Linked DNA regions of Homo sapiens: region 2 is linked to region 1. The links come from fine-mapping of genetic effects on gene expression. A gene starts in region 1. The other region holds a variant in brackets. All regions are shown on one strand. Distances are from middle to middle.

The links. PIP is the estimated chance that this variant, and not a neighbour inherited with it, causes the effect.
Region 2: its variant is fine-mapped to the expression of CCDC134 in monocytes (Quach 2016, PIP 0.95).

The regions. Positions count from the first base shown.
Region 1 is chr22:41,798,243-41,803,615 of GRCh38, reverse strand. It overlaps CCDC134 (coiled-coil domain containing 134), which reads right to left and starts at 2,937. Exons shown (of 7, transcript NM_024821.5): 1 at 2,850-2,937. MEI1 (meiotic double-stranded break formation protein 1) reads right to left here. Exons shown (of 31, transcript NM_152513.4): 31 at 4,162-4,362. The coding sequence ends at 4,317. RefSeq lists silencers at 2,915-2,974, 3,565-3,654 and enhancers at 3,125-3,204, 3,275-3,354, 3,130-4,116.
Region 2 is chr22:41,771,241-41,776,613 of GRCh38, reverse strand. It overlaps MEI1 (meiotic double-stranded break formation protein 1), which reads right to left. Exons shown (of 31, transcript NM_152513.4): 21 at 347-512. Among named protein-coding and RNA genes, the nearest start is that of CCDC134, 27 kb to the left of the region's middle. The variant TTA/A (reference allele first, on the strand shown) is at 3,052.

The sequences.
Region 1 (5,373 bases):
TTGTATTTTTTGTAGAGACGAGGTTTCATGATCTTGGCCAGGCTGGTCTCGAACTCCTGGGTTCAAGCAATCTGGCCATCTTGGCCTCCCAAAGTGCCAGGATTACAGGGGTGAGCTATCGTGCCCAGCCCTATTTTCTTTTTAAACTTTATACCTATTACTTTTTAAATTTTTGTTGAAGTATCACTCCTGACAGAATAATGCTGGCCCAGAAGTTTGCAATGACAGCAAATGCCTATGGAACAGCCAAAATTGAACTTAACAATGAACTCCAGGTAGACATACCTTGAGAGCCACTCCTTCCAAACCTCCCTTGCTGCTCAAATGTGGCTAAAAGGTATTTGGGGTTTTTTGAGGCAGGGTCTCGCTCTGTCACCCACGCTGGAGTGCAGCGGTACAATCATAGCTCCCTATAACCTGAAACTCCTGGGCTTAAGTGATCCTCTACCCAACTGACTCCCGCACACTCCCCAACCAATGCCCAGATAACTTTTTTTTTTTGAGACGGAGTTTCGCTCTTGTTGCCCAGGCTGGAGTGCAATGGTGCGATCTCGGCTCACCGCAACCTCCACTTCCCAGGTTCAAGCGATTCTCCTGCCTCAGCCTCCCTAGTAGCTGGGATTACAGGCATGTGCCACCACGCCCGGCTAATTTTTGTATTTTATTTTATTTATTTTTTATTTTTTTATTTTTTATTTTTTTGAGACAGAGTCTTGCTCTGTCGCCCAGGCTGGAGTGCAGTGGTGCGATCTCGGTTCACTGCAAGCTCTGCCTCCTGGGTTCACGCCATTCTCCTGCCTCAGCCTCCCAAGTAGCTGGGACTACAGGCACCTGCCACCACGCCCGGCTAATTTTTTGTATTTTTAGTTGAGATGGGGTTTCACCGTGTTAGCCAGGATGGTCTCGATCTCCTCACCTCATGATCCGCCTGCCTCGGCCTCCCAAAGCGCTGGGATTACAGGTGTGAGCCACCGCGCCCGGATGTTATTTATATATATTTTTGTATTTTAGTAGAGACGGGTTTCTTCATGTTGGTCAGGCTGGTCTCGAACTCTCAACCTCAGGTGATCCGCCCGCCTTGGCGGTTGCCCAGGCTGGTCTTGAACTTCTGGACTCAAGTGATACTCCCTCCTTGACCTCCCAAAGTACTGGGATTACAGACGTGAGCCCCTGCTCCCAACCACTACAAGGGTTTTGACACTGACTCCTAGTCACCAGTCTCCAACTGGAGACTCCTAGTCTCCAACATGGCAAGAGACCAACAACCCAAGATAGGTCCGTCCCAGCACTGAGGGACCTAACTACAGGATGACTGATCAGTAAAGTTTTTGGAGAAAGATCTTGACCAAAAGGGGGAAATATGAAAGTTGTTAGAATCAAAACAGAGTCGTTTGTGTTAAAAACTCTGACAAATTTAAAGCATGATTCTCCAATGGGAAAAAACAAGAACAACAACTCTGACAAATAAAACCGAGGAAGGTTGTGAAAAGAGGGTTCTTATGCACAAATGACTGATAACAAGATCACAAAAAATGCAAAAACCACAACCCTGCACAAAGGCCACTGCAAACTTACACAGAAAAATCTTTCTGTGAGGACATCTGCCCTGCAACTGCCTGTCCAACCTCAGACTAGCACCACTCTTGCTATTCATCCTTGTAGCCAAGGATAACTATCTCAAAATAATCATGTAATCCTCATTTTTCCTTTTCAAAACCTTTGTCTTCCTTTACCTCCCCAAATACGTACACAGGTTACTATGGCACACATATTGTCACTACAATGTCTATTCCCAAGTAAACATCATTTTTTTAGAGTCTCTCACTCTGCTATTTAGGTTGACAGTACCTACCACACTCTAGGCACTGTTCTAGAGGCGGGAATACAGCAATAAATAAGCAAAAATCTCTGCACTCATGGTACTTGTCTCTAGTAGGGATAAGAGTTGATCAATAAACTTGTAAAATAAGCACAGAGGGATGAGAGGGTGTCGGTCAGGTACAAGATTACATAAAGTGGTCAGGAGAGGTCTCACACTCAGATTACAACTCCCCAATGTTACCAATGTGAAATCAAGGCACAGAAAAATGAGGTGACTGCCCAAAGTCACACAGCTATTCCCAGGCTGAACCAAGTGTCTGTTTGGCTCTAAGTCCAGTGCTCTGTCTTCTGACTCTTTGTAAATGAGCACAGGCTACCTGAGATCAGAGCTGGCTACTGAACTACCAGGACACCTGCCCCAGGGGAGAGATGCTCAGTTACAGACAGTGAGGGGCTGCAGAGATCATCCGGAGAACCCCCTACCCCCAAGCAGACGAGATAAGTGAAACCTAGAGAAGGAATAGTCCAAGTTCACCCAGGACCCTCCACATTCCACCTCCTGCTCCAAACTCAAGGGAACCAGAACCAGGCTAGGGCAAAACTTTAGGGGCCAAGGAGAATACCAGACAGCTGGCAATGACTGAAGCAGGTAGTGGGAAAGAAAAGCCAGAACAGCAGCCTGCGGGACAGGTCCTGCTTTCTCTACTGTTAAACTCACTTTTTCAGCCTCTCAATCCCGATCCTGCCGTATGCGTCACCCGGAGCTCCTCCTGGCTCAGCATGAGGCTCTGAACTCCTGCAGAGGTACCAGGTAGTGGCGGGCCTTGAGCCAGCTACCGGGGTCGGGGGCCCAGGTGGTTGACCCCGAGCCTTCGGAGCTCCCGGAGGAGGGAGCGAGCCTTCTCAAGGAACAGAGGCGTCCAGGTCCACGAAACTCCCTCCCCACCACCTGCAGCCGGTTCGAGGCCCTCGGTTCTCTCATTATCCTTCCCGGGAACCTGCAGCCCGCGGCCCCTACAGCCACCTACCTGGCCAGTCGGTGCAGGAAGGGCAGGTGGCCGAGTCCTGTGCGAGCAGCTAGGCTCGAAGGTCCAACAGGCTAACAGCAAAGCAACTGAAAGCGGGAGCAAACGGCTAGCAACCGAGCGCAGACCGCCGAGCTCCGTCCCGCCCACCGCGCTGCTCCCGGCCAATGAGCGCGAGCCGCCACTGCGGGGCTCCGCTAGCCTCACTTCCGGCCCCGCTCCACCGCCCCTGCCTGCCCCTCCAGGCTCTGGCGTGCCTCCAGCGCGCTGTGGGCACCATCCTCGTCCTGTCCCTCCTGCGGGCCCTGGGTACGTGGCCCTGGATTTAGCTTGTGTTGGAGGAAGTTAAATCTGTGGGTGGGGTCTGTGCCCAATTTAAGGCGTGAATCAGCAAACTGGGGTCCCAGCTCCTGTCGGCCGGGCGACCTTCTGCGCGCCCTCCCTGAAACTGTGTCGTCGTCTGTGGCCGAGTTTTTAAACTTTAGATCGCAACGTGAGTTTAGTGGGCGGTGACTAGCACTTTTGTTCTTCTTTAAGGACCTCAGAGACTCAGTGCAGGATTCGGGCATCCCCTCCTTGCCCCTCCGGTCCACCAACTAATAAGCCAAGTGCGGCGGGGGCTTCCTCGTCCGTTCGTTAGGCCGAGTGCAGCCCCACTTTTGCGCAGGATCAGGACAGTCAGACCCGAGAAGGCAGCGTGGCGTGGCCATCTCCGGGCCCGGGGCCCCTGCCGGGCGGGAAGGGAGCTGGAGGCCCGGTCTGGGCTGAGCTCCCCAGAACAGGCGCAGGGCAGGCACTGTCGAGCGCAGACCTCATGCCGGGGACCAAGCTGGACATGCATTCCCAGGATCTACCCACGAGGGTGCATAAACACCAGTTCTGATGACGGCTGTACGGGAAGGGACAGAGGTGACCTACTTTAGCCAGACAAGGGCTGAGGCTGGGACAGTTTCGTTCTGATAGGAAAGCTGAGAATTTGACCCTCCTTGCCTGGAAAGTTTACCTCTATCCACCTCCACGTGAGGCGAGGGAGCAGGTCAAGTGCCTCTGGGAGCTGTTGAATCGCAGCAGCCCCAACCCCTAGGCCTTTCTCTGCCCTGCCAGCCCCAGGATGGCCTGACTGGTGTTCTCTGAGTACAGCTGAGGCACCCAGCTGACTCCTTGAATGCTGTTACAAGAACAAATCCTGTCCCGTCCCTCCTTCCCTGAGGAGGCCATCAGTCTCCTTGCTGAAACAATCCCTTATCCAACTGGCTGAGAAACCAGCTCCTGGTAGACAAGGTAGTACAGTGTTTTTGGAGAGCTCGCGCAGGTATGTGAGTGTATCATTTTATTTCCTTATTCTATTTCAACAATAGAGTATATGGCTCCATATGAATAGCTTCAGCTGTCATCCATTTCCCCAACAATTATGCCCTTTGTCTCCAGGTCTCATTCTCTCTCCACTTCTGGGCCTTCAAGTCCTGAGGATCAGTTTCTGATGTGGGACAGGGATACAGCCACCCCTCCCAGGCAGCTGGCAGCAAAACATGAGAGGAAAACAGCAGAGAAGTGGGGCCAACCATGGGGGCATCACACTTCCAGAGCCCAAAACAGTCAAGAATGGTCAGGCAAGAACAGAAGTGCTCCTGAGAATAGTGGGATGGATTCTGAAATTGGGTCCTGAACACCTGGGCTAGGTAGTTGCTATTCAACAGGGAACTATTGCACGGAAGGGGCAAGGAAGAGAGCCAGGGAGGCAGCCAGAGGGGTGCAGAGGAAGCAAACTACCCTCACACACACCTCTGGACTGCAGTATCTCTGGACTGCAGTGTCTCTGGGTGCAACCAGCCACCTACCAGAGGGTCTCTGACCACTGCCACAGCCCCAAGCTTGCTTTTTTTTTTTTTTTTTGAGACATAGTCTCACTCTGCCACCCAGGCTGGAGTGTGCAGTGGCACAATCTCGGCTCTCTGGTCACTGCAATCTCCACCTCCCAGGTTCAAGTGATTGTCCTGCCTCATCCTCCCAAGTAGCTTGGATTACAGGCATGCACCACCATGCCCGGCTAATTTTTGTATTTTTAGTAGAGATGGGGTTTTACCATGTAGGCCAGGCTCGTCTCAGAACTCCTGACCTCAAGTGATCCACTCACCTTGGCTGGGATTACAGTGTGAGCCACTGCGCCCGGCCCCCAAGCTTTCTTTTTTTTTGAGACGGAGTCTTGGTCTGTTGCCCAGGCTGGAGTACAGTGGCGCGATCTTGGCTCACTGCAGCCTCTGCCTCCCAGGTTCCAGTGATTCTCCTGCCTCAGCCTCCTGGGTAGCTGGGATTACAGGCTCATGCTACCACGCCCAGCTAATTTTTGTATTTTTTAGTAGAGATGGGGTTTCACCATGTTGGCCAGGCTGGTCTCAAACTCCTGAGCTCAGGTGATCTGCCCACCTTGGCCTCCCAAAGTGCTGGGATTACAGGCGTGAGCCACTGCACCCGGCCATCCAAGCTTTCTTAAGAACATGGAAGTCACACAGACACACACACATTGTGT
Region 2 (5,373 bases), 27 kb after region 1:
TGCTGCCTCCATCCTCCTCCAGATTTCTCACTTTCTTCTTCCCACAGGGGGCTGCCATGCTTGTGACAAACAACACTGAGCACATGCTGCACAGGGTGGGGATATGCATGCACACATCAAACACATCCACTCATGTTAAACACACACACAGCAAACCAAGCATGTTGTACGCCCACTCTGCAGTGAGAGAAAGGAGGTGAAGTTTAGCTTGATGCCACAATGGCCTGGCTTTCTTTTTCAGATAAAACCCTGATTCTCTCTCCTGGAGCAGACCTAACAAGGGTAGAGATGCCCATTCTCGACTGGCTTTCAGGTCAAAGTGTGCCCACAGCACCTGCAGACTGACCTCCTGATGGGGATGCCCCATGCTCCACTAGCAGACGCTGCAGGATCAGCAGGAAGTGGCCTCGGATAAGACCGCCCACTTGGATATCCTCATTCCTCCTCAGGAAGGTCCTCAGGCTAATCAGTACCTTGTGAGCTGTGTCCACTGGGCTGGAATAGATGAGGTCCTGAGCAGGAGAGAAGAAAGCCAGAGATCAGAGGGTACTGCAGTTGGGGAAAAGTGACAATGAGGAATAGAGGGGCAGGAAAAGGGCCCATAATTATGATGTCACAAAAACTGGGTAATCTGTCACTTACTCAGCACCTATTATGTACCAAAGGCTCTTCTAGGTGCACTGACGCCTCAAAACCATCCCTTAGAATAGGTCCATCCTAGGCCGTGCATGGTGGCTCACGCATGTAATCCCAGCACTTTGGGAGGCCAAGGCGGGTGGATCACGAGGTCAGGAGATTGAGACCATCCTGGCTAACACGGTGAAACCCCGTCTTTACTAAAAATACAAAAAAATTAGCTGGGCGTGGTGGCAAGTGCCTGTAGTCCCAGCTACTCCGGAGGCTGAGACAGGAGGATGGCATGAACCCGGGAGGCGGGGCTTGCAGTGAGCCGAGATCGCACTACTGCACTCTAGACTGGGTGACAGAGCAAAACTCTGTCTCAAAAAAAAAAAAAAAAAGAATAGGTCCATCCTATTAAATCCATCCTAAACAGGAGAAAACAGGCTCAGAGAGATTACATGACTTGCTAAAGGTCATATAAGCCAGTGGCACAGACAGAATTTGAATGCAAGTCTCCTAACTCCAAGCCCAAAGCTCTATTTTCCAGGATGCCTCCCTCCTGCAAATGGTAGGATTAGGGTCAAGAGGTTGTTTTCAAGACAGGGAACCTGAGTGTGCCTTAAAGAAGAGAAGAAGGAAAGAGAAATGATGTCACTGGGCAGGCAGAGGATAAATTAGGACAGATTCAGTGCACAGAAAGGCAAGTGAGGACCAGGTCAGGCCCGTTCTCTACCAAGGCATCTGGTTATCTCTGCCCCAAGCTATAAAGGTCTTAGGCTCGGAAGATGGGAAGATGCTTTTTATTTTGCTTTCAGAGTTATTTTAGTGAGTATATGTTAAAGACAAAGCCAGTCAGAAAGCTGCACCAGAGGCTACCCTACTGATAGCTCCTGGCACCTGCTAGCTCAAAGAAGCCAATTCCTTTGGACAGGCTAATGCGCTGGGCCAGTTAGGACTGAGGGTTATGAATCCAAGGTCACACAGACTCCCTCTCCAGGGAGGACAGCTACTGACACACAGAGAGATATGGCTACAATGCATCTGGCCAGACAAACCCAGGTGTGCTGATCACTGGGCAGAAGGAGAGGGATGGGGTCACAGGGATGTCTAAGTTTGGCTCTCAGAAACCTCCGCAGTTGCTGGAAAAACAACTATATATCAATAACAACCACTCAGGGCCTAATAATGTCAGGTACTATGTTGTGTTTATACAGTAGCTGTATATTTGTTTATACATTATTTATACCTCTACAATAACTCTTCCATATAGGTGTCACCCCAATTTTTCAAATGAGAAAACTGGGGCAGGTTAATCAGTTTGCATATCAAGAAAGTAATAAAGTTGTAAATTAAACTGCACTGTGAGTTAATGAAGGGAAGGGATGAGGTCTACTTCATCTTTGTCACCTTGTAGAGACTCAGAAAACATCTCTGAAAAGAAAAAGGTCACAGAATGGGAGGGCTAGAGAGAATCTAGATAATTTTTTCCAATACCTTTACTTTACAGAGTATGAGGCTGAAGCCCGACGGGAAGGGAGGGGCATGATTTGCCCAAGGTCATAGATCCCAGAGTCAAACCAGTTTCCTGGTCTTGTGCCTTCACCAACACATCACTGCCCCACTGCCACAGAGGTGGTCCCTCAGAAGTCTGAGTTAATGAATGTTAAAGGTATAAAAGGAAGGGGCTACTCAGCTTTGTGTGGCTATGGTGAATGCTGGAGGAAGAGGAACGTGAGGACCCCACCATATGGATCAGTGGGAAGGCTCTGGGCAAAACTATGACCCAATCTGTAGTCTCTGCTGTCCAGAACTCTCTGGGTCTTGACAGACCAGCGTAACTTGGCCAAAGAGGAAACAAACAGAGTTTCTGTGATGTCATTGTCCCTTCACATCTAAAAAACCTACATGAAAGACCACCCATTGATAAGAGTGGCAATTAACAGCTTTGTTTTCAGCTGTTAATTACCCATATAAAAAACAGAAATTGGTATCAACACAAAATTTTTAGACTCTTTTTCCTTCCTCTGGCTAGAAGCTGGGGAGAAATGGTAAGAATTATATATATGAACAGACAATAAAGTTGTTCCTTGCTGTTCTTTTGTTTTGTTTTGTGTTTTTGAGACGAAGTCTAGCTCTGTCGCCCAGGCTGGAGTGCAGTGGCTCGATCTTGGCTCACTGCAACCTCCGCCTCCTGGGTTCAAGCGATTCTTCTGTCTCAGCCTCCTGAGTGGCTGGGACTACAGGCACGTGCCACCATGCCCGGCTAATTTTTTGTATTTTTAGTAGAGACAGGGTTTCACCATGTTGACCAGGCTGGTCTCGAACTCCTGACCTTGTGACCCACCCGCCTCAGCCTCCCAAAGCGCTGGGATTACAGGCGTGAGCCACCGCGCCCGGCCTCCTTGCTGTTCTTTTTTTTTTTTTTTTTTT[TTA/A]CCATTGATGTCTCTAGGATCTAAGTTAGTGAAAAACTTACTCACTTTGGGCTCTAGTCATAGCCATGACCCTTATTAACTATATGACCTTGGGCAATTCAATTAGCTTCTCTGAGATGAACTTTATCTGGTTCAGAGGCAGTCAATGATTAGTGAATGACAGCCCACTATGTGAAGCAAACCAAGAGTGTTCCTACATACTATCTCATCTACCCTCATGTTTTCTCCATTTTCTGTGGGAGAAAACTGAAGTTCAGATTAGCCTCTATCTTCCTAGTCCTCTATGCAACAACTCATCTTGAAGGCAGCTCCTTTCTGTTAAGCTCTATGCCAAGTGAAACACAAGACTCCTCTCTGCCCTGACCTCCACCACCTCCAGAAAGGAGAGGTGATAAGGATGGTGCACATTCAAGGACAAGGACTGGGTCACCAGGATAAATGGTGGGGCATCCACTCCAGCTTCCCTGGGATGTAGACTCTAAGTATTTGGTCTCCTGAGATTCAATTTCTGTTTGGTTTGCTTCTTTTAATATTTACATCCTGTGAAGTTAGTGGCCTAGCACAGCCTTCAGTTAGTGAGGGACCTCTCCATTCTAGGAAGACCCAGGCTGAGAAAGGGAATTTGGGAGAGGAGATAATGAGCTCCATTTTAGGCAGAAATGTCAAATAGATGGTTGACTTCATGGGTATGAGCTCAGGAGAGAGGTCAGGGGTGGTGCAGGGATTTGAGTCATCACCATACAGCCAGGAGGCAAACAAAGCCATGGGTGTGAATGAGATAACCCAGGAAGAATAAACAGACTGAGTAAAAAGAGAGCCTCAGACAGAACAACTGATAGATAGGGAGTCAAATCTGGGTTTTAATATTTTGATTTCCAACTCTTGTGACCATGGGCAAATCTCTCTAAGCCTATGTTTCATGTATTTAAAAAGAAAAAATGGCAGGTACAGTCGTTTATGCCTATAATCCCAACACTTTGGGAGGCCATGGTGGGAGGATCGCTGGAGCCCAGGAATTTGAGACCAGCTTGGGCAACATGATAAAACACTGTCTCTACAAAAAATATAAAAATTAGCCAGACACAGTAGCACATGCTTGTAGTTCCAGCTACTTGGTCTTGAACTCCTGACCTCAGGTGATTCACCTGGCTCGGCCTCCCAAAGTACTGGGATTATAGGCATGAGCTGCCACGCCCAGCCAATTCTAGTTACTTGGGAGGCTAAGGCAGGAGGATCACTTGAGCCCAGAAGATTGACGCTGCAGTGAGCCATGATCCTGCCACTGCACTCTAGCCTGGGCAACAGAGCAAGAAAAAAGAAAAAAAATAAAAATAAATAAGATATAGTCATGCTGTATCTTTTCTATGTTTAGATATACAAATGTCACTGTGTTACATTTGTCTACAATATTCAGTACAGTAACATGCTGTACAGGTTTGTAGCCTAGGAGTAACAGGTCATCCCATATACCTAGGTGTGTAGTAGGCTAGACCATCTAGATGTCTGTAAGTATACTCCATGATGTTGGTATGACAAAATCACCTAACACTGTGTTTCTAAAAATGTATCCCCATCATTAAGCAATGCATGACTGTATTGTCACTACTATCCCTGGACAGACTTAGATTGGTCTAGACCCATAATTCAATGGGTCATAATTTATAAGTACCTACTATGTGTGAAGAACTGACCCCGAATATTTCATCTGGTGAAGAAAACCTAGTATCTTAGTTCTGTCCCCTGCTACTCTCCTTGGTATCTAATTTGTTGTTCAATTTGCCTTCTTGAGTGGAAGGAAAAAAAGTGGAGTTAAAGCCAGCCACTAGGCAGTTTACCTTATCTAATCTAATTAGCCCATCTAATTCCTGATGGGAATTTCAGTAACGTACTTCACCAAAAAGTATTGACAGCCTGGGCAACCTGGTGAAACCCCATCTCTTAAAAAAAAAAGTAAAAAATTAGTTGGGTGTGGTGGCGTGCACCTGTAGTCCCAGCTACTCGGGAGGCTGAGGCAGGAGAATTGCGTGAACCCGGGAGGTGGAGGTTGCAGTGAGCCCAGATCATGCCACGGCACTGCACCCTGGGCAACAGTGTGAGACTGTGTCTCCAGAAAAAAAAGTACTGGGGCATCTGACAATTCTAGGTATGCCTGAGCAAGTAATGTACATATAATATTATCATGTAAGTCATGGCAAAAAAGAGGAGGAGTCCCTCTGCCATCAGAAATGTCCATCTACATGCCCCATGGGCTTCCTTTAACATTAAACCTGTGTCAGCAGAATCTGCTTGAGAGATGACAGGGAGGTGAGAGGGGATGGTG